7 linked regions of the Homo sapiens genome follow. The protein of the gene in region 2 purifies or fractionates together with the protein of the main gene of each other region. This does not show direct contact. Each region holds a gene or a part of one and is shown on either strand. Other genes may lie near its edges. The genes, in order: RBM22, USB1, XAB2, ESS2, CDC5L, CWF19L2 and GPATCH1.

Region 1 (3,989 bases), on a different chromosome or scaffold from region 2:
ATATTTTAGGCATTGTGGGCCACATGCAGTCTCTGTCACGTATTCTTGTTTTAAACTTTCTTGGCTCATGGGCCTTGAGAGCTATGGTTTGCCAACCTCTTATCTAGGGTTTAGGGTCTTTAAAGAACCTATTAGAACCCCCTTTCCTCCATGGGAAAAAACCCTGAGATGTTTGAGAACCTTTATTTACTCATTATTTTTCTTTCCTTCTCTCAATCAGCAGCACCCACAGTAGGACAAGATATGGGGTGGAGACCTGCGGGTAGTTAGGCAGATAACCTTGGGGCCCACCTGCCTAGTGGTGTGTCAGTGAAAGTTAATCCATTTTCAGTCTCCTGGGTACATCTTTTTTAACTCCCACTTTCATTTTTCTCTGCCTGTTTCCCTTCAGAAATCATTTCTACCAGTTCGGAGAGATCCGGACGATCACTGTTGTGCAGAGACAGCAGTGTGCTTTCATCCAGTTTGCCACACGGCAGGCTGCAGAAGTGGCTGCTGAGAAGTCCTTTAATAAGTTGATTGTAAATGGCCGCAGACTGAATGTGAAATGGGGAAGGTGAGAATTAAACTATTTTTAAGTGACATTTTGCTTAGATTTTTAAGAAACTATTTCATTTTCTGGAGACTAGTAGGCTTTTGGTTAACAGGCTTAAATGAACAGGATCTTTAAAGAGATCTTTCAAAGATCACTCTCTATGTGATACTTGATTCCTGTGGATGTTGGGAGAACCCTGCTTTGGAAATGTATTCAGGGGGTTGGTGTATAATCTACTCCTTTGAAGGTTCATGTTTTTGTGACTAGCTATTATAGGCCAAGTATAATGCCAGGCCATGAAAGGTGAATTTTAGGGTTTATAAATGAATTAGACCTAGATTCTGCCCTTAGAGGCTGATTGTCCAGTGGAGAAGATAAAACAGGGAAGAATCGCTATTTTAAGTTTAAAAGTGATGATTGCATAAGAGAGACACAGGTGAAAGACCCAGTTCAAAGGGGGAACATGTCTCCAACTTGGAACCAGGGAAGTGATGGCTAATAGCAGCATCTGCCTTTGTGGAGCGCTCCCTATGTGGTAAGCACTGTGCTAAACACGTATGTGTTGCCTTTTCTGGTCCTTATGATAGTTCTAGCAGCTTTTGAACCCAGGTCTTTTCTGGTGTCAAAACCTTTGCTCTTGTTCACTGTGCACAGTGGCATTTATGGGAAAAGAGTGTGTGCTGAGGAGGAGGTAGAGCGAAGGAACTCCATTGGACTGGGGAATGTAAGAAGCAGAGGTGTGAGATAAGGTGGGCCAGAGTGCCGACTGTATGCATGTGTGTTTCCCAGATCCCAGGCAGCCAGAGGAAAAGAAAAAGAGAAAGATGGAACTACAGACTCTGGGATCAAACTAGAACCTGTTCCAGGATTGCCAGGAGGTGAGTGCAGACTCCCTGCTGACTTCAGAAGCTCTTTCTGCCCTGATGTTCCTATTTTGGAAGATGGGACCCAGGTCTGGTTCATGTTGCCGCTCTACTCTCCCAGTAGGACCTCTGAGAATGTAAAGGTGGTAGAAACAGCGTTGCACAATTGTTCTCCCCTCTATGTGTTGACTATTTTCTCTCCTCCAGCTCTTCCTCCTCCTCCTGCAGCAGAAGAAGAAGCCTCTGCCAACTACTTCAACTTGCCCCCAAGTGGTCCTCCAGCTGTGGTGAACATTGCTCTGCCACCGCCCCCTGGCATTGCTCCACCCCCACCCCCAGGTAACTTCCATCTTCCTTCTTAGCCCAGAGAAATCCTTGTGAAAGTTCTGTCTCATAAACCTCACCATCATGTTCAACACATCCAAATCCTGTGAGTTTGCTCTGTAGAAGTCTACCAGTAAAGTTGATCTGTTGGGATTTCTGAAATTTTTCTTTCTCCTGCTCTGCCGAGGAGAAGAAAGGGGCCAGTTTTCTAAAGATCCGCGTATATGTGTCAGCAGAGTAAGATTATTAGATTACAAAGATCTATCACCAATTTGTTCCCTTTTCTAAACTAAATGCTAATGGATGCCCTAGAGCACTATTGCCCAGTGTGGGCTGTGAGCGGGTGTCATTTTACAAAGTGTTTATCACCTGTCTGCCACAAGATCAGGAGCTTGTGCCAAAATGTAATCAGTGAACCCCTTCCTTCATTGAGAAAGTCTTGTTACCAAAAAAACTGTCAGATGAACTAAACTGTGCCTGGTCGTATAATTTACATTTTGACTCAAGCTCTTTGTCTTGAGTGGCCAGAAATAGGTGGAGGACTGGCACTTCGTATAGCACTGCTGTAGACAGTGTTAACAGTGGAAGGAAATCACAGGTAGCCAGTTCTCCTGTGGCAGAGAGCCCATACTCTGAAGAGAATCTGGTTTCTGAGCACCCTCCATTCTGGTGTCAAGCATTGAGGTTAATGATGACACAGTCTTTGCCATCAGCCTGATTTCTTTCTTATCTCCCAAATCCTGACTGAATCCTGTCTGGTAGGATTTGGCATGTTGGATACATAGCAGAGACTCAGATGACATACTAGGCGATACCTTGAGTGCTGTGGAGTTTTTTGGACTGTGGGGGAAAGGTTTCTAAAACCAAGGAAATAACAAGTGGAAGTAAGTTTGTGAACTGACATTTGCTTAAGCCCCGTGTCAACCTTGATTTATGTGTAGGTGGTTTTAACCTTAGCAAGATTGAGAGGTTTGAAAGGTTATCAAGGAAACTACCAGCCTAACACATTTGTTCTCTCGTATCTGCAGGTTTTGGGCCACACATGTTCCACCCAATGGGACCACCCCCTCCTTTCATGCGGGCTCCAGGACCAATCCACTATCCTTCTCAGGACCCTCAGAGGATGGGAGCTCATGCTGGAAAACACAGCAGCCCCTAGCACCTTGTCACCACTCTGGGGCTCTGTGGAAGAAAGGGCACTTAAAACTCCCAGTAAATCTTGGAATAAATATATTTTTCCTTCCCTTGTAGTTTCCATGGTAGCTGAATGTGCTCAGATGTGAGCAGTCAGAGACTGACAGCCATGCTTTCCTATACTTGTTCAAAGGATCGATGGACCGTAAATAAGCTGCCATTAACACATCTGGTTACTGCTGTAACATGACTAATAAAACCGAACGCCTGTTCCCCTTACCCGTGTGGGGGACACGCAGATGAGTGAATTGGAATGTCCAGCAGAGTTACCCTCCCAATTATATGTTCATTTTGTATATTTTTTGGTCGGGGGAAAAATTGACCTGCAGTAAAAAAACCTTTGACCATTTTTATGTCCATTGGATACTTTCCTTTTTATCATCTTAAAAAAAGATAACTAGTACTAATCATTGTAGTGGCCTAAGTGTGATTTAACTCTTGAAGTCACACCCTCCGAAAGATGAGTAGAAACCAGCACCAGCACAGCCCAGATCTTCTCTTTCCTCTCCTTTTCCTCATTTATTCCTAAAGGAATCTGACCATTTTACGTCTCTACGGCCCAAAAAAAGACAAAAATAAAAATTCCTTTTTATTCCTGTCAACTGGATGGAAACACAAATTTCATGGAGCTGTGTACCATCGAAGAAACCTGGTGTCTGGCATGAAATTACTGTAAAGAACTTCCTGTAAAACACGTTCTTTAACAAACTGAAATGAAAAGCATTGGAGCGTCTGAATGAAAGACGTGACCTCCTGCTGGGACTCTGATGGTCTTCAGCATTCACCTTCGTGTGTCTTCAGTGTCTCATTGTCATCCCTGCTTCTGTTTGGTCTTAGAGTGTTTGGATATAACTGAATTGTAGATGGTAAAGGAAATTTGATGTGTTTTTTGTTTTTAAATAATTAAAACGGGTCAATTTTTCACATGTTGTCATGGGTTTATTTCTAGATTCCTCTTTATCCTTTGGTAGCTGAACTCGAGGTCAGTGGAAGTTATTTAATAGAAATGAGTTATATATTGTAAATTTTTTAAATGTTGCTTTAGACTTTTGATTATATCCATTCCGTGATGA
Region 2 (4,201 bases):
TGACCACGAGGTGGTGTGCAGGGCTGGATCAGGGCCACCCCAGCACAGGACCTGAGGTTAGGGCTGAGTACGGCCCTATTTCTCATGCAAGCAAGTCACTTAACCTGTTCTTGTAACAGAGGACTAGACATTCCCACCCTGTTTACCTTTCAGGGGATACTGGGAGGAAGACACGAGAAGGTTCTGGGAAGTGCTCAGTGTCACAGCAGTATAAGGCTTCAATGTCTGCCTATGTGGGTGAGGGATGAGGGTGGTGACCCCTGCCACCTAGCTCCAGGCTAGATGTCCTATGTGAGAACTCTGTGTGTACACCTGGCAGGCTGGGTGACCCCTCCCTACCCTTATTTTACTGAAGCATCATTAATGCCTCTCGAGGCCATCTTGGAAGTCACAGCAGAGACTTCCAAGAATCCTCCCAAACTGTGAGACACAGCTGGACAGGGTAGGGGAAGGTGACAGTCATCTTTTCACTGGGTTAAATACAAGTAGTCCAAAAAAGATCCAAAATAAAAAATGCAATTTTTATTTGTTGAACATAATTTGAAACTGTAAAAAGATTTCTCTGTCCATCACCAGAAATCCAGAAGACACCTGAAGAGGACTGACTGTTTCTTTGCCACGGGGAAGGTGTGATGAAACAATTAAAATCCCATGCATCCCTGGCCCTTCCTCCACGTTGCCCCTCAGAATGCCTGCAGCTGCAGCAGGCAGGAGGCAGCAGGAGAACCCGGGCTGTGGAAGGCCCCTCTGCCTCTCTGGGAAAGCTGCTGGGGAAGCCAGAGGTCACAGTGCATTGGAGGCCTGGCTTTCAGCCACTGGCCAGGCCAAAATGAAACATCTGCTCAAGTCTCCCCAGGCACCTTGCTGGGGGTGAGTGGGAGAAAGAAGTGGAGAAAACTGATGCTGGACCACAAGTTATCACCCTGTACCTTGGCTTTGAAGTGGCCCCTGCTGGTACAGGAGCAGGGTGAGAGTAAAAGTAAATAAATAAAAGCAACATGCTTCAAGGAGAGAGGGTGACAGACCCACTGAAGCACCCCGTGTCCTGGCTCGACCAGGGATAAGCCAGGGCGTGATGATTTAAAACACTCTGATCTGAGGCCAATGGCATCAAAATACAAATTGCTGAAGTGGGAGAGGAAGTGAAGGGCTGTTTGTTAGGGGGACTACAGTGGAGATTCTGGTGAGTGTGGGTGGGCTCGCCAGTGACCCCAATATTTTCTTTGTGTAACAACCAGAGTAAGCATTAGGATGCCCAGGCTGCCCTCTACTGGCAGTTTCTGGGAAGGACCACAACAGCAGCACCCAACCTGCAACCCACAACAGCCGAGACAGGAGAGAGAGAAGAAAGCAAGAGAGAGAGAGGAGAGGAAGAGAGAGAGGAGAGGAAGAGATAGAGGAGGGGAAGAGATAGAGGACAGGAAGAGAGAGAGGAGGGGAAGAGAGACAGGAAGGGAAGAGAGAGGAGAGGAAGAGAGAGAGGAGAGGAAGAGAGAGGAGGGGAGGAGAGACAGGAGGGGTAGAGAGAGGAGAGGAAGAGAGAGGAGAGGAAGAGAGGAGGGGAGGAGAGACAGGAGGGGAAGAGAGAGAAGAGGAAGAGAGAGAGGAGAGGAAGAGAGAAGAGAGGAAGAGAGGAGAGGAAGAGAGACAGAGGAGAGAAAGAGAGGAGAAGAGAGAGAAAGAAGAGGAAGAGAAAGAGAGAGAGAGAATATCAGCACTCAGGGAGGATGAGGAGTGGCTACACCTCCTGCCAGGTTGAAGGCATGGCTGGGGCCTCCTACTGGGAGGCTAGAAGCATCTCCATCGATTTTAGCAGGTTCCTCCATCTCAGCCTGGTCTGCAGAGGGCCCTGGAGGAGGAAGGCCTCTGGTGCTCACTTCAAAGGCATCGAGAAGAACTTGTTCCCAGACTTGCAGCGGACTTGCTCAGTGTGCACGCGCAGCAGCACCTCAGCATCTTCAAACCCATCCACGATTGCCTTAAAACAGCAGCCAGGGGAGGACAGTCACATTAAGGGGCATCTGGGACCCACAGGGCACTGCAAACAAAACCAGCTCACCCAACTTCAGAGGCTGGGCGAGGCTGAGGCTGCAGGCTCCAGGCTCTGCATTGGTGATCTTGTCTGATCACTTCTGTAATCTCTGAGGTTGGTCCTATCATCTCAACTTTACAGATGAGGACACAGATGCTCAGAGCCCTGGATCACAGAAACCAATAAAACCAGGCCTGGGACCCAGGTCTGCCGGAGCCCAAACTAGAGCTCTTTGCCACCTCCAGCAACATCAGGCCAAGCGCAAGGTGGCTCCTTAACGAGGGACCACAGCTGCATCCAGCCTGCACGTTTGGTTTGGTTGCAAAATGTTTTTTAAACATCCAAATTAGTTGCTGACATTTGAAAACTGACAGATTACATGTAAAAATCTAGGTTTCTGGCTTCTCTTATGAAACAGAAGTGCTGGCAACTCTAGGCCAATCTTCCCGCATGGCCACACTCCCTACTGTCTCCCCAACCAGGGCTGGAGTATCAGCCGCCGCTTACCACTTCATGTAACTTGCTGGTTCTCCTCCAAGGGCGCAGATGGGAAAGTGGAATCTTTCAGCTACTTATCAAAATCTGATAGACTCTGGGGGCTGGATGTTCCTTACCCCTGGTACATTTCACCCATTTTCAGTGCCAGGCCCAAGCCTCTGACCTCTGGGCAAGTGGCTAGGACTTCAGGGAAAGCCTGCAGCCTCCTCGCAGATCAGTGTTCTAGGGCAGTGCTCCCTAGAACTGTAATGTGCACACAAATCCCCAGAGATCTTGTTAAAATGTAATTCTGATTTCTTAGGTCTTGGTGGGGGTGGGGGCAAAGATCTGTGTTGTTAATAAGCTTCAGGTGACACTGAAGCTGCTGGTCCAGGGGCCACACCTTGAGTCACAAGGGAAGGTGTTGGGGTCTCCTGCCATGTCATTTGTTTCCCAGGGATTCAGGTTTGGGTGCCTCATCCTCCCCCTCTCCAGCATCTGTCCTGTCATTTCTGGAGTTCAGCGCCCTCTGTGCTCCCGCCCTGGAAATTCACCTGTAGTTCCTGCAGGCACTGCCCCTCCAGCTGGAGACGTGCATCACCCACACACCAGGCCAGGCTGAGGTGGAAAGAAGGATCCTGGGGAGGGAAACGAGAGGCAGGCAGTCACCCGGACGCCTTGGCAGGCCCTGCCCTCACAGCAGGTCTGTGACAGAGCTGTCGTGACATCCCTGCTGGATCCCTGGCCTGCCCAGTGGGAGACAAGATACTCAGTGTTGATCCCAAGCACCCTCCACAGACAGACAAAACAGCACAGGACTGGTCCTTGCTATGGACTGAATCGTGTCACCTCCCCCAAATTCATGTAGCCCTAACCCCCAATGTGATAGTATGTAAAGATGGGGCCTTTGAGGGGTAATTAGGGTTAGATGAGGTCATGAGGGCAGGACCCTCATGATTAGTGCCCTTTAATCACAGAGAGCTTGGGCACTGCTCTCTCTCTCTGTAGCCCCCAACCCCTGCCCCGCCATGTGAAGGCGGCCATCTATATGCCAGGAAGAACCCTCACCAGAAACCGACCACGCTTGGCCGGGTGCAGTGGCTCACACCTGTAATCCTAGCACTTTGAGAGGCCAAGGCAGGCAGATCACCTGAGGTCAGGAGTTTGAGACCAGCCTGGCCAACATGGTGAAACCCCGTCTCTACTAAAAATACAAAAATTAGCTGGGCGTGGTGTTGTACACATGTAGTCCCAGCCACTTGGGAGACTGAGGCAGAATTGCTTGAACCTGGGAGGCGGAGGTTGCAGGGAGCTGAGATTGCGCCACTGCACTCCAGCATGGGCGACAGAGTAAGACTCTGTCTCCAAAAAAAAAAAAAAAAAAAGACATCAACCATGCTGTCACCTTGATCTTGGACTTCTAGCCTCCAGAACTGTGCAAAAATAAATTTCTGTTATTTAGGCCACCCAGTCTATGGTATTTTGTTATGACAGCCTGAGCTAAGACAGTCGTATTCACAGAGGCTTTCCCTGAAGTATCAGAGGGTCATTACATCTGTGACATGAAAGAAAATCCACCCTCTATTCTGATCTAGGACATTCCAGTATACACCATACTTTTCAGATGACATGAACAAAATCCCCAAAGTCTCAAGTTTTGAAGCAACAATAATTGTCTCCATTCAAATTCAT
Region 3 (3,989 bases), on a different chromosome or scaffold from region 2:
TGGAGCCAAGGCTGGACCCATTGTGGGTTGGGGGTCAATTCTAACCCAAAAGGACCAAGGCTGGACCATTGGGGCTGAGACTGGACCACCGCAGTCAAGGCTGTGCCCTTGCGGGTCAAGGCTAACCCAAAAAGTCCACAGCTGGTCTAGTCAGGACTGAGGCTGGACCAGTGGAGCCAAGGCAGGACCCACAGGGGGTTGAGCCTAACCCAGTGGGGCCAAGGCTAGACCAGTAGGAACCGGGCTGGACCAGTGGGGCTGAGGCTGGTTTGACAGGGCTTGCTTTTGCCCAAGACACTCATAAATGGGTGGGGGGGGACGCCCCGAAGCCACTGAATCGGGAGGTGGGCGTAGCCCTGCCACCCCACTGACTGCCTGAGGGGTGGCTCGGTCCCCAGCTGAGTCCTGAGAGTGCAGAGGAGTACATTGAGTACCTCAAGTCAAGTGACCGGCTGGATGAGGCCGCCCAGCGCCTGGCCACCGTGGTGAACGACGAGCGTTTCGTGTCTAAGGCCGGCAAGTCCAACTACCAGGTGGGCCTGCCGGGAGCCGGCAACTGGGTGGGAGGGCCACCCCCTCCATGACTGAGCCTGAGACTCTCCCCCACTGCCCCATGCCCTGCAGCTGTGGCACGAGCTGTGCGACCTCATCTCCCAGAATCCGGACAAGGTACAGTCCCTCAATGTGGACGCCATCATCCGCGGGGGCCTCACCCGCTTCACCGACCAGCTGGGCAAGCTCTGGTGTTCTCTCGCCGACTACTACATCCGCAGCGGCCATTTCGAGAAGGTGCATGCTGGCACACGGGGCTCTGGGTTCGGGGCGGGGTCTCCCTCCGACACTCGGGGACACATGTTGACACATGCACAGGCAGAAAACATGCCATTTATGGCTGGGTGTGGTGGCTCACACCTGTCATCCCAGCACTTTGGGAGGCCGAGGCGGTAGGATCACTTGAGGTCAGCAGTTCAAGACCAGCCTGGCCAACATGGTGAAACCCCATCACTACTAAAAATACAAAAATTAGTCAGACATGGTGGTGCGCGCCTGTAATCCCAGCTACTCGGGAGGCTGAGGCAGGAGAATCGCTTGAACTTGGGAGGTGGAGGTTGCCGTGAGCTGCGATCGCGCCACGGAAGTCCAGCCTGGGTGGCAGAGCGAGACTCCATCTCAAAAAAAAAAAAAAAAAAAAAAAGTGCCATTTTTGACAGACATGCATATCCCTGCACACGATTACTATCCTGCTGAGGGTGGGGGAGCACTCCTGCCCGCAGGCACGTCAGCCTTGGAGTCAGCCACATTTGCGTTCAGGGTTCACCCTCTGGCTCTGCGGCCTTGGCCCCACTAAGGTGGGGTGTCTTCATTTGTAAAATCAGGGTGACAGTTACTGCCTGTCACCAATCAGCTCAGTGACGCAGGCACAGCACTGAGGAGGTACGTGGTGTGAGGGCCACTCCCTCAGGGGTTAGCTGACTGTGGCTCTTGGCAGGCAGTGGAGTGGCAAGCTCAGGGGATGGCCTGGGGGCAGGTGGGTGCAGAGGGGGCCAGAGCCGAGAGCGGGGAGGCTCAGGAACCCAGGGAAGATAGGTTGGGAGCCTCGAAAGCCAAACGGGCTGGCCATGCTCCTGGCTGGGGGAGCCGCCAGTGGGGTGTGGGCGGTATGCGCTTCGCAGCGCCCCTTCCAGGGGCACGTGTAGGCCAAGGCTGTCGGAGGCAGCAGGGCAAGACCCGTCAGGGCTGGGTAGAGAGAGGGGACCTGAGCTGGGGTGGGCGAGCCAGGTGGAGGACAGGCGGGCTGGGGAAGAGGGTCAGGCAAGCGAGAGGGACGCTTTGGAGCAAATTCTGAGGCCTCGGAGGATGAGCTGAGGCGAGGGTCCCTGCAGGGTGGACCCATAGGCGCTGGGGGGTTTTTGGCCACCTATTGGGTGCCAAGTGCTTCACACATGTGTCTCAGTCGAGCCCTGAGGTCACTGTGTGCAAAGGGCAGTCACCCAGTTTACTGAGGAGGTCCTGAAGCTCCCAAGACCACCCTGGCAGTGCAGGGCAGGGCGGGGGTGAGAAGGCTCCACGGAGGCTCTGTCCTGGGGTCACTACCCAGAGGTGCTGGATGCGTCACTACCCAGAAGGCCCCCAGGGGTTCCACATTGAGGCTGGTGCTAAGAGTGCTGCTGCCTGTCCCCTGCGCCACTTTCCTCTCACCTCCCCTTCCCTGGGTCCCCACAGGCTCGGGACGTGTACGAGGAGGCCATCCGGACAGTGATGACCGTGCGGGACTTCACACAGGTGTTTGACAGCTACGCCCAGTTCGAGGAGAGCATGATCGCTGCAAAGATGGAGACCGCCTCGGAGCTGGGGCGCGAGGAGGAGGGTGAGCCTCTGGGGGCCCCGGCTGGTGGGGAGAGAGCTGAGTGGACATTAGCGGTAGGGGCGGGACACATCTCAGGTGAGGCAGCCCTGGGAGGCTCAGCTGGGGGCCAGCAGGGAAGGAGGCTGAGTGGATGCAGGGGGTGTGGGGGTCTTGAAGGAGCCAGGAATGGGGACACTTCTCAGGCCTGGGCCAGAGCCTGGCAGGGCAGGAGGGCTAGGGGAACAGTGGGGGTAGGAGGGGGTATCCACAGTACCTGGGGCTGGGGGTGGGGCTCAGGTGGACACCCGAGCTGAGTGTCTAGGGCCCAGAGCACTTGGCTGGGGGCTGGAGCGGAGTGAGGGTGGGGAGTGGAGGCGGTGGCATCCGGGGACCTGCATCCTGGGTCTCCGCCCCTGACAAACATGTTCGCGGCTCCCAGATGATGTGGACCTGGAGCTGCGCCTGGCCCGCTTCGAGCAGCTCATCAGCCGGCGGCCCCTGCTCCTCAACAGCGTCTTGCTGCGCCAAAACCCACACCACGTGCACGAGTGGCACAAGCGTGTCGCCCTGCACCAGGGCCGCCCCCGGGAGGTACATGAAGCCTGCCCCAGTCCTACCCCTGAGGGCCAGTTTCCTGCAGAACTGGGGAGCCACCCACCTTCACCCATAATGTCACCTTCTAGGGGCCTGACTTTGCTTAGTAGGTCCAATTCCACCCCTGTTCTTGGGGTTCTCCTCCTGCCCGAGCCCCGCCCCTCAGAGCCACAGTCCCTCCTGGCCCCACCCCTTGGAGGGCCACAGCTCCCTCGTGGCCCCGCCCCTTGGAGGGTCACAGCTCTCTCCTGGCCCCGCCCCTTAGGGCCACAGCTCTCTCTTGGTCCTGACCATTGTCAAGGGCCATAGTTCGTTTCTGGCCTCTCCCGACAGGGGCCACAGCACCCTCCAGGCCCCACCCCTCAGAGCCACAGCTCTGCCCCGACCGTCATCTGCAGGGTCCTGAGTCCTATATGACCTCCTCCCTCCTGTCCCCAGATCATCAACACCTACACAGAGGCTGTGCAGACGGTGGACCCCTTCAAGGCCACAGGCAAGCCCCACACTCTGTGGGTGGCGTTTGCCAAGTTTTATGAGGACAACGGACAGCTGGACGATGTGAGCACCCTGTTGCGTGTGCCTGTGTGTTCATGCATGTGTGTGTGCTTGTATATGTGTGCATGTATGTGTGTGTACATATTTGTGCATGGATGTGTGCACGTGTGTGTGCATGTGCATTTGGGTGCATGCATATGTGCACGCATGTGTGTGCCTGTGTGTGTGCCTGTGTGTTTGTGCCTGTATGTTTGTGAGCATGGTCACCTTTCTGACCCTTGATGGTGGGAGCTGTCCAGGTGGGCAGGGTCTCAGCCTCGCCTCTGCCCGCCCCGGCAGGCCCGTGTCATCCTGGAGAAGGCCACCAAGGTGAACTTCAAGCAGGTGGATGACCTGGCAAGCGTGTGGTGTCAGTGCGGAGAGCTGGAGCTCCGACACGAGAACTACGATGAGGCCTTGCGGCTGCTGCGAGTGAGAACAGGCCCAGGCTGTGGGGTGGGGGCTGCAGGTTGTAGGGCAAGGGCCAGGGACAGCCCCTGAGCGCCTCCCCGGC
Region 4 (3,989 bases), on a different chromosome or scaffold from region 2:
TGCAGCCCACTGGCCGGGGTCTTGAGGTGGGTGGAGCGTGCTGGGGATGGTGTGTAGCTGGCCCGCAGGGCCCGGTCTGTGTACTTGCTGGCCGTCCTGCTCACAAGGCGCTGTAGGGCTGGCGACATGGCTGGGCTCAGGCCTTTGGGGGTGAGGCTGGGGTGGAGGAATGGGTGAGAGAGGCAGGGTTAGGTGGGCTGAGAGCTGCCGGCAGCAGGGCCTCCCTTGGCTCCCAGGAAGAGCCTGGGCAGAGACACAGTCACTCTGAGCTGAGGAGGATGGTACTGCCAGCATGGCAGCAAATGCGGGGGATCCCTGAGGTCAAACAGCAGCGCTCAGGTCAAACCTGAGGTCAAACAGCAGCACCGCCCTTGGCTGTGGGGGCTGGGGTGCACCCCCAGGCCTCTGAGAGTTGGAGTCCCCACCCCTCTCCAAGGGGAACGATGACTCTCTCCACAGGGCTGATGAAAGCTCCCAGCAGGACCACACGCCTAAAGATGCCTCTTAGGGACGGGTCAAAGAGGACGTGGAGGAAAGAGAAGATGGAGGGGGCCTCTCATCCTGTCCATGTGCGGCCATGCTCTGGATAGAGGAGCTGCCACAGTACCCACTGCAGAACCCCGCGGACCTGCCCTGGACTCTGCCGCGTGGGCCATGCCTCCACACGGTCAGGGCAGGGGCCGAACAGGAGCAGGCCAGAGCCACCCTCGCACTTCCCCACCAGCCAGGCGGCCCCTCACCTGGCCAGATTCTCCGTCACTCTCCGCAAGGCTTCCTGCTTCTTGGCCCGGTTCTTGGCAGCGGCCTCGTTGGCCATCTTCAGACCCAGCCGCTCCCTGCGGCCTGGCTCCAGGATCTACAAGGTAGCAGGTGTGTGGGTAGCTGCGCCAGGCCTGCCACACGCCAGGCAGCCCCTCACACAGAAAGCCACTGTGGTGGGTGCCAGCCTCTCTTTGTTGCCTACAAAACCCCCACAACCCATCACCTCCCACTAAAAGCCCCTGGAAAGCCCCAAACCCCACCTGACCTGCCCAAGGCGCAGCACTCCTCACCTGTCTTCGTGTTCCTCCCAAAACCATGACCTCTGACAATCTCTCAGGAAAAAGCAGTCTGTTTTAGTGTTTCCCTGATTATCAGAGTGAACATCTCTGTCTTTATCGGCGCTCTGTATTTCGGGCGCTTCCCCGTGTGCCTGTGGCCTATTTTGCTCTCAAGGGGCTCATTTTCCTTTTCTGCTGCTGTTACTCAGAAGACCCTTGCCAAGACCTTGTGTCAAGTCAACTGTGCTACGCTGTGCACATGTTTTTTCACTCATTTACATTTGTTTCATTTATAACATTTTCTGCTGTATTTGTTATTTTCATTTGTGATTTCTTCCTTTGCTTTTATGTTTAGAAAGTCCCTCCTAACTTAAGATTAGACTACAGGCTGGGAGTGGTGGCTCACACCTGGAACCTCAGCACTTTGGGAGGCCAAGGTGGGAGGATCACTTGAGCTCAGGCATTGGAGACCAGCCTGAGCAAAATGACAAGACCTCATTTCTACACACACACACACAAAATTAGCTGGGCATGGTGGTGTATGCTGTTAGTCCCAGCTACACAGGAGGCTGAGGCTGGAAGGTCATTTGAGCCCAGGAGCTCAATGTTACAATCAGCTATGATTGCACCACTGTTCTCCAGCCTGGGCAACAGAGTGAAACCCTATCTGTTAAAAAAAAAAAAAAAAAAAAAAAAGAGGCGAGGCACAGTGGCTCACGCCTGTAATCCCAGCACTTTGGGAGGCTGAGGTGGGTGGATCACGAGGTCAGGAGTTCGAAACCAGTCTGGCCAAGGAGTTCGAGACCAGTCTGGCCAACATGGTGAAACCCCATCTCTACTAAAAATACAAAAATAAGCCGGGCGTGGTGGCACGCGCCTGTAGTCCCAGTTACTTGGGAGGTTGAGGCAGGAGAATCACTTGAACCCAAAAATCAAACTAAATATTCGCCACTATTTTCTAGTCCCAGTTACTTGGGAGGTTGAGGCAGGAGAATCACTTGAACCCAAAAATCAAACTAAATATTCGCCACTATTTTCTTCTGGTTGTTTTATGGTTATTGTTTTTACATGTAACCTTTTCACCTTTCCACAATGTATGCTGCTACACATCCTGAGGACCCAGCTCCCTTCATTTCTAAATACTCTGCTATTCAGTGCAATCTGAGTTGCCATCTTTATCGGGCCCCAAATTCTGACTTGGATCATGGTTTGTTTCAGAATTTATCTGTTTACTGTTGGCCTGGAGACTCGGGAAGCAGTGGCAGGCATACCTCAGAAGCACCTCAGCCCTTGCCTTGCGCTCTCACATTGGACAGCACGGCATCCTCTTCATTATCCCTCTCGCACGTTTGCCTTGGTTATCCTTGTGTCCCAGACAATTTAGAACCAAGGTAACCAGAACCTCTCCCCATGTTTTGTCTGGACATGGGTTACCTGTACTAAGTATTCTGGGGAAAGGCCCGCAGTGGTATGGGGAGGCCTGTTGTATCTGACCCAGCCCACGAAGAGCCTCCCCTGGTCTGTGCCGGGCCTCACACACTCCACCCTGACCACTCCTACAACACCAGGCTTGAGCCGTGTAATCCAGCGTGTCCCAATCGTGTTCTGTAACCAGGGGCCTTCTCTACAAGCACACAGCCTCGTCCTATGGCCCTCAGGCCTGCAGAGCTCCTCACGTGTCTGTGACCATCCTGCCTCATTCATGAACAGCACCCGGCCTCCAGGATCCAGAGGGCCCAAGCCACTCCCTGCCTTGGTGTCTCAGCCCTTACACCCCCAAATCCCTCTGTGACAGGTCCACCCACCCACACCTGCCTTCAGCACCCTGGCATTCAGAAAAGCCAGCACTCTGCCCGTCAGCAGCTGGGGGCCGATCCCAGTGCTCAGTCCTGAGCCACAGGCACTCAGGGCTCCAGAGGTGTCCACCCCGGTCGCACACAGTTCCCCCATCACCACAACCCACCTTAAAAGCTGGGCCGGGTGTCCTGTCCACGTAGGGCGTTTCCGACCCTTCAACTCTCAAGGGTGTGTTCTCAACCTCCCCCCAGGTCATCATCGGGGACTCGTTCACACCTGCAGACAAAGAGCCCAAAACCACCTCAGGCCAGAGGACTCCCCACCACCCTCCCCTCCAGTCACAGCTTGTTCACCCAATGTGCATCCCAGCTAATACGAAGGCAGGCAGCTAGCCCTCTCTCCTTCCCCAGGACTCTGGAACCCTGGCACCTCCATCCTCCGAAAGGGAAATGCCAAGCTCCCAGCAGGCCCGAGGCAGGCTCAAGGCCCTACAGCCATGTGCTTAGCCTACAAGCCTCTGGGAGGTCTCCCCCAGCCACGCAGGAGGAGACACTCAGGCCTTCCAGGGCTCCCAAACCTCCTAGAACCCCAGGCAAACCTGTGGTGCCTTCACATGCCCTGGCGTGTGACACAGCACCAGCACCCAAGAGCACAGAGGCCAGAGTGCAGAGGGACACCCACGCATGCCACAAGACCACCTGAGTTTCACCTCCACTGAGGTGCTGGGCCTCCCTCCCTGCAGTGCTAGGTAGACTTAGACTCATAAGCACTGTGCACACACCCCCACCCACTGACATCACAGTAAGGACCAGGACAGGACACGTCATCCCAGGATGTCTCAGGCCAGGTCTGCCTGAGAGTCCAGCCCACCCACGGCCCCAAGCAGCCTGGACACCTGGCCTCTAGGGCCTTGTACAGACAGGAGACCAGGTCCCTGAGTTACACAAGGTGTGGGGCAGGCCAGGTAGAGGCCAGGAGTGGCCAGGGCCGACTGAGAAGCCCACCTCCCCCAGGGAGTCCCAGCAGTAGACCCACTTGCCAGTGGGCACTTTTCTCACCAGGGGCAGGGGAAGGAGTGGCAACAAATCCAAATCCACCCACTCGAGGGGACTCCTGGGGGATCAGCTCCTTGCCATCGGGGCCCACCTTGCC
Region 5 (3,989 bases), on a different chromosome or scaffold from region 2:
GGTCTAGGATTGCCTCATTGCTGCATAGAAAATCAGCAAAGCAGTGCAAAGCCAGATGGTATGTATCAGTTTAATAAGTGGAAAACAGAAAAGGAGCTTAATTATGATGATGGAAAATGTCAACTCTGTGAACCTTATCAAAGAAAGCAGACATTGTAATATAACAAGGCATGGAGTGGGAGATGGAAGTTGGGTGTTTGACTTAGCTGTCACTTGCTTCCTGTGTGGTCTTAGGCAAGCCATTTTTCTATCCCTCTCCCCTGCCCTTGTTTTCTCCCAATTAGGGATAATAATACTTGGTCCTGACTGATAGAGATGTGAGTTGTCATCTAAATGGGTTAATGTATTTGAGAGTGCTTTGTGAAGCATACAAAGTCTACTTTCAGGGACAGATGAGCCCCAGCTTGTAAATTAATTGTGTTCTAAAAGTGCATAAGTTAGCTGTTTTAGAAATTACTTGCTCAAAGAAATAAATGATAAATAATGGCTAATTTTCTAAGTAAGCCTACAGTAGTTGAGTTTCCTCATAATACAGTTGAAATATTATATATTTTATAGTTAATATGTTATATATTATATATTAAACATACTTAATGTTATATATTATATATTAAACATATTTAATATGTTATATATTATATATTAAACATATTTAATATGTTATATATTATATATTAAACATATTTAATATGTTATATATTATATATTAAACATATTTAATATGTTATATATTATATATTAAACATATTTAATATGTTATATATTATATATTAAACATTTAATATGTTATATATTATATATTAAACATATTTAATATGTTATATATTATATATTAAACATATTTAATATGTTATATATTGTATATATTAAACATATTTAATATGTTATATATATTAAAAGATATAAGCCAACTCTGAACCTGTGGTGTCACCTCTTTTTTATTTTTATTTTTTGGGACGGAGTCTTGCTCTGTCGCCCAGGCTGGAGTGCAGTGGCGTGATCTCAGCTCACTGCAAGCTTTGCCTCCCGGGTTCACGCCATTCTTCTGCCATAGCCTCCTGAGTAGCTGGGACTACAGGCTCCTGCCACCATTCCCGGCTAATTTTTTGTATTTTTAGTAGAGACGGAGTTTCGCCGTGTTAGCCAGGATGGTCTTGATCTCCTGACCTCGTGATCCATCCACCTCGGCCTCCCAGAGTGCTGGGATTACAGGCGTGAGCCACCGCGCCCGGCTGGTGTCACCTCTTAAATCATAGGGTAGTGGACACGTGAAGCTATTTAGGGTGTTCTTGGCATGAGTTATTTAGCACCATCCCCAAGTCATGTGGCATTAGGAAAATACTTTGGATTGTATAAGAATGACCTAATTTCCTAGGCACCTGGTTAGGGGAAAGTATCAGAATGTAGAAATTGGCCAGGCGTGGTGGCTCACATCTGTAAGCCTAGCACTTCGGGAGGCCAAGGCTGGGATCACCTGAGGTCAGGAGTTTGAGACCAGCCTGGCCAACATGGTGAAAACCCCGTCTCTTCTAAAAGTACAAAAATTAGCCAGGCGTGGTGGCTACTTGGGAGGCTGAGGTGGGAGGATCGGTTGAACCCAGGAGGTGGAGGTTGTAGTGAGCTGAGATGCTGCCACTGCACTCCAGCCTGGGCGACAGAGTGAGGCTTTTTGAATGTAGAAATTGGCTGTTAAGAGGAAGATGATTTTTAGGCTGAAGAAGTCGTTCTGATTTCTGTTTGTCTTAGTGGTACCAGTTCCTGCTGTCATATTTGGTAGGACTTAAGTCCTGTTTGCCTGCCTGTCATCCAGCTAAGTAGACTGGATGGAAAAGGTGGGCTGGGTGGGGAATTAGGAAAGACAGAGGGAATGTCATAGTAGTTTTACTTAAATTTTAAAACATATCAAATGAAAGGTTACGGTGAATTTAGTGAGTGTAAGTCAAATGCTTAAAGAAATAAGCCATGGTGTGAGAATCAAAGCATGAGAAAATAGTATGAAAACTGGAAACACTGTAAGAAACGTGATTTTGTATTGTCTTCCAAATATTTCAAAATTTCTAGAAAAGCGTAAATAAATAAAAACATGATAGATGAGAAAGAAGGCTTATGATCATGATTCAGTGAAGTAACCTTTTTTAACCATTACTAATCTTGCATAATTAAAATAAAATAGAATGTGATGAGATGGGGAATATTGACTGGGGTAAGTGTAACCACACAGCAAATATTCTGTTGTCAAAAAGAACAGTTTTTGTAATTGAAGGATGAGAGCACAAGTCAGTGTATCCATTGTGCAAATTGGATATTTATGCCAGGTAACTGATTAATATATAAAATGATCTATGTTTAATAGGTATGAATGGCTGGATCCAAGCATTAAGAAGACAGAATGGTCCAGAGAAGAAGAGGAAAAACTCTTGCACTTGGCCAAGTTGATGCCAACTCAGTGGAGGACCATTGCTCCAATCATTGGAAGAACAGCGGCCCAGTGCTTAGAACACTATGAATTTCTTCTGTAAGTGAGTCTTCAGAAAGAGCATAGAATATATGTATATGTTCTGAAAGAGGCTGAATAAACTTTGAGTATTTTCTGTCTTTAAACTTTTAATTATGGATGTGAGTAAACCCAAAGCTAAAGCCATTGGATAATATTTTCCATATCTCAGATGGTTGATCAAAATTATGCCTTCTGTCATATACTTCCTAAAATAATAATTTAAAAGAATTATACAAGTCATGCATGTTCATCATAGAAAATCTGGGGAAAAAATAGTAAAAGAGCAAATAAAAGTCACCCATAATCACACTGCTAAGAATTAACTACTGGAACATTTTGGTTCTTTACTAATAGTTTTTTTTTTTTTTTTTTTTTTTTTAAATTTGTATGGCTGTACCGCATTTGTGATTAGGATCTGTTTGGGTTCTATTTTAGAGTGATTGAAACCAGTCACTGAAATCAGCAAATTTTAATATCATTTCTTTCAGATGAAGTGATAGTAAAAAGGCTTTATGTTGTTAAAGCCCATCCATTGGTTTTTTTGGGGGGAAAAATATCGTCAGAACTTGGAAATCTGGTAATTTTAACTCTAAATGGTACTGTAGTGTGACTAACTCCTATGGGCTTTTTTCTAGGGATAAAGCTGCCCAAAGAGACAATGAAGAGGAAACAACAGATGATCCACGAAAACTTAAACCTGGAGAAATAGATCCAAATCCAGAAACAAAACCAGCGCGGCCTGATCCAATTGATATGGATGAGGGTAAGTGTATGCTTTGAGGAATTTATTTCTTTGGTAACTGTAAACTCCTTGGGCCTCACTCTTTTAGTTCCTTTCTGAACTCCTCTACTTTAGAATCCCTTTTTTTTTTGAGACAAGGTCTTGCTCTGTTACCCAGGCTGGAATGAAGTGGCACAATCATGGTTCACTGCGGTTTTGACCTCCTGGGCTTAAGCAATCCTCCCATCTCAGCCTCCTGAGTAGTTGGGACTACAGGTTTATGCCGCCATACCTGGCTAATTTTTAAATTTTTTTGTAGAGATGGGGTCTCCCTGTGTTACCCAGGCTGGTCTCAAACTCCTGGGCTTAAGCTATCCTCCCTTTTCTGCCTCCAAAAGTGTTGAGATTATAGGTGTGAGCCACCATACCTGATCCCCAATTCTGTCAGCAGTGTTCTTATTCTAAGTATCTTTCCAAATATGTCCAGTGTTTTCTGTTATAGAGTAGTTGCTTTTTCTGAACAGCGCCCCTTCATCTTCTGTTTCTTCAATTCAGTTAATTAAGTTAATTAAGTGTTACGGGGTGTGGTGGTATGTGCCTGTAGTGCTAGCTGCTAAGGAAGTTGAGGTGGGTCGATCTCTTTAGCCCAGGAGTTGGAGGCCAGTCTGGGCAACATAACCCCTTGAGCCCAGAAGTTGGAGGCCAGCCTGGGCAGCATAACGAGACCCTGTCTTTAAAACTGAGTAGTGTAATTCTACTGAGTAGATTTTT
Region 6 (3,455 bases), on a different chromosome or scaffold from region 2:
TCATAAGTGGGAGTTGAACAATGAAAACACATGGACACAGGGAGGGGAACATCACACACCGGGGCCTGTCAGGGGGTCGGGGGGCTAGGGAGGGATAGCATTAGGAGAAATACCTAATGTGGATGATGGGTTGATGGGTGCAGCAAACCACCATGTCACATGCATACCTATATAACAAAACTGCACGTTCTGCACATGTACCCCAGAACTTAAAATATAATTTAAAAAAGAGAAGAAACAATGTGTAGAGTTATAAGTTACAGTGGAGCACACCTCACACTGAATCTAGGTATCCAACATTTCATACAAAAAGGTTCAGCTTCCAAAAAGCCAATAGCTGAAAAAAAAGTTACTACAACAATAATTTCCATTAAGAAAAAGAAAAGTAGGAGCACTCAAAACATAAAAACCCTATACTTACAAAATATGACTATGGTGTGAGTTGAGAACAAATAAAAATTACGTTCCTTGGATCAAGTAAGGGACAACAGAATGTCCCATACTCTCATCCAGGCATGGTGGCTCATACCTGCAATCCCAGCACTTTGGGAAGCTGAAACAGGAGGATAGCTTGAGACTAGGAGTTCAAGGCTACAGTGAACTATGATTGGGCCACTGCACTCCAGCCTGGGTGACAAAGCCAGACTCTGTCTTAATAAATAAAAACAAAACAAAAAGATAAATAAATAAAAACTCTCATTACTTAAGATTTTACGACAATCAGTACAACTCAAAACCAATGATTTGGCTATAAATTTTAACTTTCATGCAAACCCCAAACAACCCTAAAATATGTTATTTGGAAGAATTACTTTTAGAACCACCAAAATTCAAAGATACTATTTAAAAATCCAGAAATAAAAACAAATTTGAATCATACAAATTTTCAGTATCATTTAATTCTTTAATACTTTGGGGACATTTCCTTTTCCTTTAACAAAAAGAATAGAAGTGATACTATATACTGCTAGTAGAAAATTAAGAGCTTTTCTATAAAATCCTATGAAATTAAAATTAAATCGTCTTATTTTTAAAAATGCAAAAGAAGCCAGACAGTAGACTTAACAACCATGAAGCAGACCCACTTCCCTCTGAACCAAGGATTTCCTATGCTTTTTAGATATCCCTTCAGAAAAGGCCTTCTCTAAATTAACTGAACAATTCGGAATACCAAGAAGTAGGTAGAGAGCAGGAATGTGAGCAGATCATCGAATATATGTTTTTACTCCATGGTGACTAAAATGAAGTCCATAGATAGGAGCAGGTGAAGAAGAAAACAACACAATCTCCTGATGTACAGTTGTCACTGACCCAGAGCAGTCTGCTGCTGTGACTCTCTCTGCCTGTGACCTGAGGGTCAGTTGCTTCATTAGATGCAATGGAAATAAAACTGAACGGGATCTGAAGAAAAATTTTAAAATGGAAGGTACACCTCAATAGTTTTTACTTTTGGTGAAGTCATATGGTTTCCACCACTGAGCAAACTGCAGTGCTTTTTTCCTCTGATCCTCAAAGCTTTCTCGGATGCCTTTCCTCCAAAGTCTTGGTTCTATATCCAGCATCCCACCTATGATTTCCTTTTAAAGAAAGAGAAAAGCACAAACACAAGCATGTATAAATAATGAAAACAGAAATGAAACTATTTCTGTTTATTCTGCTATAAAATATAACAAGTTCTTCTCCATGACAATGTTCAAGCATAAATACTAGTTGAAGTTAAAAAAATATGTTTTCAGTTAATTCTAACTAGGCAAACCGTGTGATTCTAAGAGTCCAAGTTAGCTGCATCTCCTATCAAGCAATTTGTCCATTTTGTTGCTTATTAGCACATCTACTAGATGGTAACAAAGGGGAGGGAAAACAAGTGAAATTTAATTAATATGATCTCTATTAGAGGCTCCCGTAAACAATTTTGCAAAAATGTTAATCAACTTCTAGCAATTATTAACTTTACTGCTCAACTGCAGTTGAATCCCAAGCTAATGTTCTCTCTCTGCTACCAAGTATATTTATAAATTAGTTTCTTCCACTATTAGCAGAAATCTTTTTTCATGAAACAAAATCCTATTGTAATACTAGTTTAAGTAAACCTATTGATAGAATTAAAAATTATATATCACTTTCATTTAAAAAATCACATTCTCAAGTCCCATAATAAATGGCTTTTTGGTTATCTGATTATTATTCTTGATTTCCTTCATGATCCTCTTCCTGTGCTGTTAGCTATAGAAATAAATCAAATTTAGGCATGTGAGTATCCATGAACAGAAAGACATGGGGGAGCCTCCTAATGCTTAAATGCTTAGAGGGAGGGCAGTATGGTAACAAAGCAAAAAACAAAAAACAAAACAACAACAACAAAAAACAGACTAAGGATCAAATTCTGCATAGTCGGTCTAGCTCCACCAGACTGTGTGGTGAGATCCTGCACAAACCACATAATCTTTCAGATGCAGGTTCTTCATCTTACTTAGGGACCTACTATGCAGAAGCAAATGCCGTATGTTGTAGGGGATACAGAGATTGTGGGGTGAAGACACACAGTTGTCTTCAGACAGAATAGAATCTGGAGCTGTGGTGGGAGGAATAATAATCCAGCTATGCAGCAGACTGTCTCATAAAGTAGAAGGTAAGTGTCAAAGCAGACCATTTGTGGAGACTCAAAAAAAAAAAAAAAAAAACAATCTATTTGTTGGCCAGACCAGGAGATGCTTCATGGAAAAGGGAATCTCCTGTCATCAGGGAAGGGAAATAAAGGGGTCAACAGAGATAGTAGAAAAGAGAAATAGGGCAAATTGAGATTTAGTTCAAGAGTTTCTCAGCATCGGTCCAAATAAGCAATGTAGTTTAAGAAAGCCTAGCTTATAAAAGTTTACCTAAAATTGTCTATAAAATACCAAGTTTTGTCTTACATCTACCATATAAGCTTGACTCTTGTTCTGTTATCAAAGCAGCTGTTAATGGAAAGACTATCCCCATAATCTCTTCTTGCTCTCTGAACAACTGCTTCAGCAGCAGACTGCAGGGAGGTCTTGAGCCCACAGGCTATTTCTTAAAAAGCAAATTTTGAGGAAAATGGCTCAGTGACGCAATGCTGACAGAGAAAATTTACTTTTAACTCCAAAACTGAATCATATAAACCAGAATGCATGAATAATATGTGAAGAAAGGGCAATCTCCCAGTTTAATATATACAACTTTTTAAAAATGGATATTTTACTTCCTTTTTTCTAGGACCAAATTTTTGTTTTGTTTTGTTTTTCTGTTTTTGTTTTTAATAAATCCAGCCATAGAGCTTTTGGTTATAAAGCTCTACTGTATAACAACAGGATTTTTCAGAACAGTGAAAACACATTTCTTTCTAGTTAAAAAAAATTCTGAACACTTCTCAAACTTGTTTCTGTAATATGTTATAACAGTTCAAAGATGCATGTTACTTTGTTATGCTGGTTAAC
Region 7 (3,989 bases), on a different chromosome or scaffold from region 2:
GATCTCTTGACCTCGTGATCCGCCCACCTCGGCCTCCCAAAGTGCTGGGATTACAGGCATGAGCCACTGTGCCCGGCCAGGCTCTTTTTCTTTAAGCTCTGTTGGGAAACTTATATTTCTATAACAAAACTTAAGATACTTAGGACCCTCCTGTAAACATGTGGCAGGTAAAGGAAATAAAGTTTGGAGGTCTCTGAAGGTGTATAGAAACAACTATCATTTCAGGCACTAGGTGGAGACAACGGGTTTAAAATATGACTGAAAACATATAAACCAGAAGCAAGCACGTATGTTTGGTCGGCTCTAAGTCACACTGTCCCCATCTCAGGGCAATCACACACTGATAAAAATGGGCGAACCAAAGGGCTCTGCACTCACTGGGGCAGAAGACGGGAGGCAGCCGCGGGCCGAACTCTTCTCTTTCATCTATCTGCATCTTTTGTATCGGGAAGGAAGGTGGCGGCTCCTGGGGTGCTGGCACAAGAGCTGAAAAACAGCGGGGTGTTCATGTCATTCGTCTGCCCCATGTTAATGTCTCTGAGTCTTTCATTCATGTCTTTTGCCACCAGATAACATATGCTTGCCCACACCACTTCACTCCTGCCAGGTGCTAAGGATGCAGCAGTGAACACGCAGACCCCGGTGCTGCCCTTGTGAACTCCAGAGCTGGAAGTCAGTCACACGAGGGCACCTGCAACCAAGGGCAGCAATGGCTGAGGTACAGCGTGCCAAGTGCACCCGTGGGCACGTAGCCTAGCGCCCCTAAGACCTGAAAAGTAGAAATGTGTCCCCAAGAAAGGGCCATCTGAGAAGGAAAATCTTACAAACCATCAGGAATGTAAGACTATGTATGTCCCATCACAGAGAACTGCGGGAGACAAGTTTCACTCAAAATAAATTATCAAAGAAAAAACCTTGAAGATAAATGATCATATTCACGTTAATAATCTTGTTTTTTAAGCAGATTACTATATATTCAGATAGAAGAGATATAAAAATTTTAAAAGTCTGGAAAACTAGCCGGGCACTGGGATTATGCCTGTAATCCCAGCACTTTGGGAGGCTGAGGTGGGCAGATCACCTGAGGTCAGGAGTTAGAGACTAGCCTGGCCAACATGGTGAAACCCCATCTCTACTAAAAATACAAAAATTAGCCAGGGGTGGTGGCACATTCCTGTAGTCCCAGCTACTCAGGAGGCTGAAGTGGGAGGATTGCTTGAGCCCAGGAGGTGGAAGCTGCAGTGAGCCGAAGATTGCGCCACTGTACTCCACCCTGGGGACAGAGCCAGATCCTGTTTCCAAAAAAAAAAAAAAAAAAATTATATACATATAAAAGATTACATATCATTGATTGCTAATCATTCGGGTTTAAGATTATAGAGTAAACAGAGAAGCAGCTGTCCTAGAGTCATTGTCTTCTCCTTTAGATCCCCGAGTCTGAAATACTGACATACCGTGAGCCACAGATGATGTTTCCCCCAAGTCAGTGTCTTGGGAGCTTTGGAAGTTGGCCTCCCCAGAGCCTGCCTGATCATCTTCACTGTCACCTTGCTCATCCTCGGAGGATGAGGACTTTTCATCTGAGGAACTGGCAAAGATGGCCCTGAATAAGTCCATGGATGGGCGGCTCCCTTCTCCTTCAGCCTGTGCGTCCACATCTTTGTTGACGGTCTGTATTGACAGTGAAATAAGAGTCAGGGATACAGAGGCAAGGGTAAAAGGGAGGAGACATTCTAGAATACACTCCCAGACACACATATTTATGTTTATGCTCATGTACATGGGTATCCATAGCCACACACCACCCAACTAAACAGTGATCACTCACATAGCTTCTATTTTTGTGGTGTTTCCGAGTCAACAACTGTACAATGTGCTGATGAGGTCAAAGAAGCAAAACCGGGCCAGGCGTGGTGGCTCACCCCTGTAATTCCAGCACTTTGGGAGGCCTAGGCGGGTGGATCACAAGGTCAGGAGATCGAGACCATCCTGGCCAAAATGGTGAAACCCTGTCTCTACTAAAAGTACAAAAATTAGCTGGGCATGGTGGTGGGCGTCTGTAATCCCAGCTACTAGGATCCCCAAAAATGCAGTAGAGCACTGTGCCTCTGTTCTATTTCCAAACTCAGATTCAGGCAACTTAACAAACCCCAAACAAAATAAACTCAAAAGAATTCACACCCAGATACATCATAATCAAACCGCTAAAATCCAAAGACCAAGTAAAAATCTTGAAAGCAGCTAGGAGAAAAATCACATCATTATGTACAGAGGAATAATAATTTGTTTTGGGGTTTTTTGAGCCAGGGTCTCACTCTGTCACCCAGGCTGGAAAGCAATGGTGCGATCATAGCACACTGCAGTGTTGACCTCCTGGGCTCAAGTGATCCTCCAACCGTAGCCCCTTGAGTAGCTGGGACCACAGGTGCATGCCACCACACCCAACTAGTTTTTTAATTTTTTGTAAAAGATGGGGTCTCACGATGTTGCCCAGGGTAGTCTCAAACTCCTAGCCTCAAACAAGCCCCCTGCCTCAGCCTCCCAAAGTGCTGGGATTATAGATGTGAGCCAACACACCCAGCCTGAGGACAATTTGAATGGTTGAAGATTTCTCATCAGAAATCACGAAACCCCGGAGGAAGTAGCAGTTTAATTTAAAAAAAAATTGGCCATGCGCAGTGGCTCACGCCTGTAATCCCAGCACTTTGGGAGGCCGAGGCGGGTGGATCACGAGGTCAGGAGATCGAGACCATCCTGGCTAACACAGTAAAACCCCGTCTCTACTAAAAATACAAAAAATTAGCCAGGCGTGGTGGCGGGCGCCTGTAGTCCCAGCTACTCGGGAGGCTGAGGCAGGAGAATGGCGTGAACCTGGGAGGTGGAGCTTGCAGTGAGCTGAGATCGCGCCACTGCCCTCCAGCCTGGGTGACAGAGCGAGACTCCGTCTCAAAAAACAAACAAACAAAACAAAACAAAAATTATCAACCCAGAATTCTATATCCAGCAAAAACATCCTTCAGGAATGAAGACAAAATATAAGACATTCTCAGATAATGGCAATTTAAGAGAATCACTTGTTGGAACTGGTCTAAAAGAAATGCTAAAGGAAGTTCCTCAGACAGAAATGATAGGTGAGGGGAACGTGGAACTTCAAGGATGAAGAAAGAGCAACAGAAATAGAAAATATCTGATTAAACAGAGTAGGCTATTGTCTCTGCATCGGTTCTTTTAAAATATGTTTAATGACTAAAAGCAAAAATGATCACCACTGGTTTGATGGCATTTTCATTGTGTGTACATGTAATATGTAAGACAGCATAGAGGGAGGAGAGTAAAAGGACCTACATAGTGCTAAAGCTTCTCTATTCTACTGGAAGTGGTAAAACATTTAATTCTCAGTAGACTGTAAAAAGGTAAGTAGGTATACTATAATCCCTAGAGCAATCACTAAAAAAAAAATACCAAGAGAAAAAAAATAGAAAAATTCAAATGGAATATAAAAATTATTCAAGTAATCCAAAAGAAGGCAGAGAAGGGGAAAAAAAGAAACAAAAAAGAGTGGTAATAAACAGAAAATATAACATCATACACGTAAATCCAAAAATATCCATGATCACATTAAATGCAAATGTCCAATATAAATTATCAAAATGTATTTTAAGAAAGACTCAGTGACACGGTGTTTATAAGAAACCCACTTTAGCCAGGCGCGGTGGCTTATGCCTGTAATCCCAGCACTTTGGGGAGGCTGAGGCGGGCAGATCACCTAAGGTCAAGAGTTTAAGACCAGCCTGACCAACATGGAGAAACCCCGTCTCTACTAAAAATACAAAATTAGCCAGGCATGGTGGTGCCTGCCTGTAATCCCAGCTACTCAGGAGGCTGAGGCAGGGGAATTGCTTGAACCCGGGAGGCAGAGGTTGCGGTGAGCCGAGACAGTGCCATTGTACTCCAGCCTGGGCAAGAAGAGTAAAACTTCATCTCAAAAA

The links.
Region 1: the proteins of USB1 (region 2) and RBM22 purify together in Homo sapiens (affinity purification with mass spectrometry; 3 studies listed by BioGRID and IntAct, with this or other methods). This does not show direct contact.
Region 3: the proteins of USB1 (region 2) and XAB2 purify together in Homo sapiens (affinity purification with mass spectrometry; 3 studies listed by BioGRID and IntAct, with this or other methods). This does not show direct contact.
Region 4: the proteins of USB1 (region 2) and ESS2 purify together in Homo sapiens (affinity purification with mass spectrometry; 2 studies listed by BioGRID and IntAct, with this or other methods). This does not show direct contact.
Region 5: the proteins of USB1 (region 2) and CDC5L purify together in Homo sapiens (affinity purification with mass spectrometry; 4 studies listed by BioGRID and IntAct, with this or other methods). This does not show direct contact.
Region 6: the proteins of USB1 (region 2) and CWF19L2 purify together in Homo sapiens (affinity purification with mass spectrometry; 3 studies listed by BioGRID and IntAct, with this or other methods). This does not show direct contact.
Region 7: the proteins of USB1 (region 2) and GPATCH1 purify together in Homo sapiens (affinity purification with mass spectrometry; 3 studies listed by BioGRID and IntAct, with this or other methods). This does not show direct contact.

What each region holds. Positions count from the first base shown.
Region 1 is NC_000005.10:150,690,643-150,694,631, reverse strand, and holds the end of RBM22 (pre-mRNA-splicing factor RBM22), read left to right. Parts: intron 1-391; coding exon 392-556; intron 557-1,324; coding exon 1,325-1,413; intron 1,414-1,605; coding exon 1,606-1,737; intron 1,738-2,750; coding exon 2,751-2,881; 3' UTR 2,882-3,840; downstream 3,841-3,989. UniProt on the Homo sapiens protein: Required for pre-mRNA splicing as component of the activated spliceosome. Involved in the first step of pre-mRNA splicing.
Region 2 is NC_000016.10:58,017,918-58,022,118, reverse strand, and holds the end of USB1 (U6 snRNA phosphodiesterase 1), read right to left. Parts: intron 3,148-4,201; coding exon 3,064-3,147; intron 1,979-3,063; coding exon 1,874-1,978; 3' UTR 501-1,873; downstream 1-500. UniProt on the Homo sapiens protein: 3'-5' RNA exonuclease that trims the 3' end of oligo(U) and oligo(A) tracts of the pre-U6 small nuclear RNA (snRNA) molecule, leading to the formation of a mature U6 snRNA 3' end-terminated with a 2',3'-cyclic phosphate.
Region 3 is NC_000019.10:7,622,680-7,626,668, reverse strand, and holds part of XAB2 (pre-mRNA-splicing factor SYF1), read left to right. Parts: intron 1-398; coding exon 399-533; intron 534-624; coding exon 625-789; intron 790-2,223; coding exon 2,224-2,368; intron 2,369-2,786; coding exon 2,787-2,938; intron 2,939-3,379; coding exon 3,380-3,499; intron 3,500-3,775; coding exon 3,776-3,907; intron 3,908-3,989. UniProt on the Homo sapiens protein: Involved in pre-mRNA splicing as component of the spliceosome. Involved in transcription-coupled repair (TCR), transcription and pre-mRNA splicing.
Region 4 is NC_000022.11:19,134,320-19,138,308, forward strand, and holds part of ESS2 (splicing factor ESS-2 homolog), read right to left. Parts: coding exon 3,896-3,989; intron 3,114-3,895; coding exon 3,004-3,113; intron 2,628-3,003; exon of another isoform or gene 2,020-2,627; intron 1,941-2,019; exon of another isoform or gene 1,890-1,940; intron 857-1,889; coding exon 741-856; intron 157-740; coding exon 1-156. UniProt on the Homo sapiens protein: May be involved in pre-mRNA splicing.
Region 5 is NC_000006.12:44,390,314-44,394,302, forward strand, and holds part of CDC5L (cell division cycle 5-like protein), read left to right. Parts: coding exon 1-58; intron 59-2,353; coding exon 2,354-2,515; intron 2,516-3,132; coding exon 3,133-3,260; intron 3,261-3,989.
Region 6 is NC_000011.10:107,325,477-107,328,931, forward strand, and holds the end of CWF19L2 (CWF19-like protein 2), read right to left. Parts: intron 1,578-3,455; coding exon 1,434-1,577; 3' UTR 884-1,433; downstream 1-883.
Region 7 is NC_000019.10:33,115,507-33,119,495, reverse strand, and holds part of GPATCH1 (G patch domain-containing protein 1), read right to left. Parts: intron 1,950-3,989; exon of another isoform or gene 1,829-1,949; intron 1,672-1,828; coding exon 1,455-1,671; intron 487-1,454; coding exon 379-486; intron 1-378.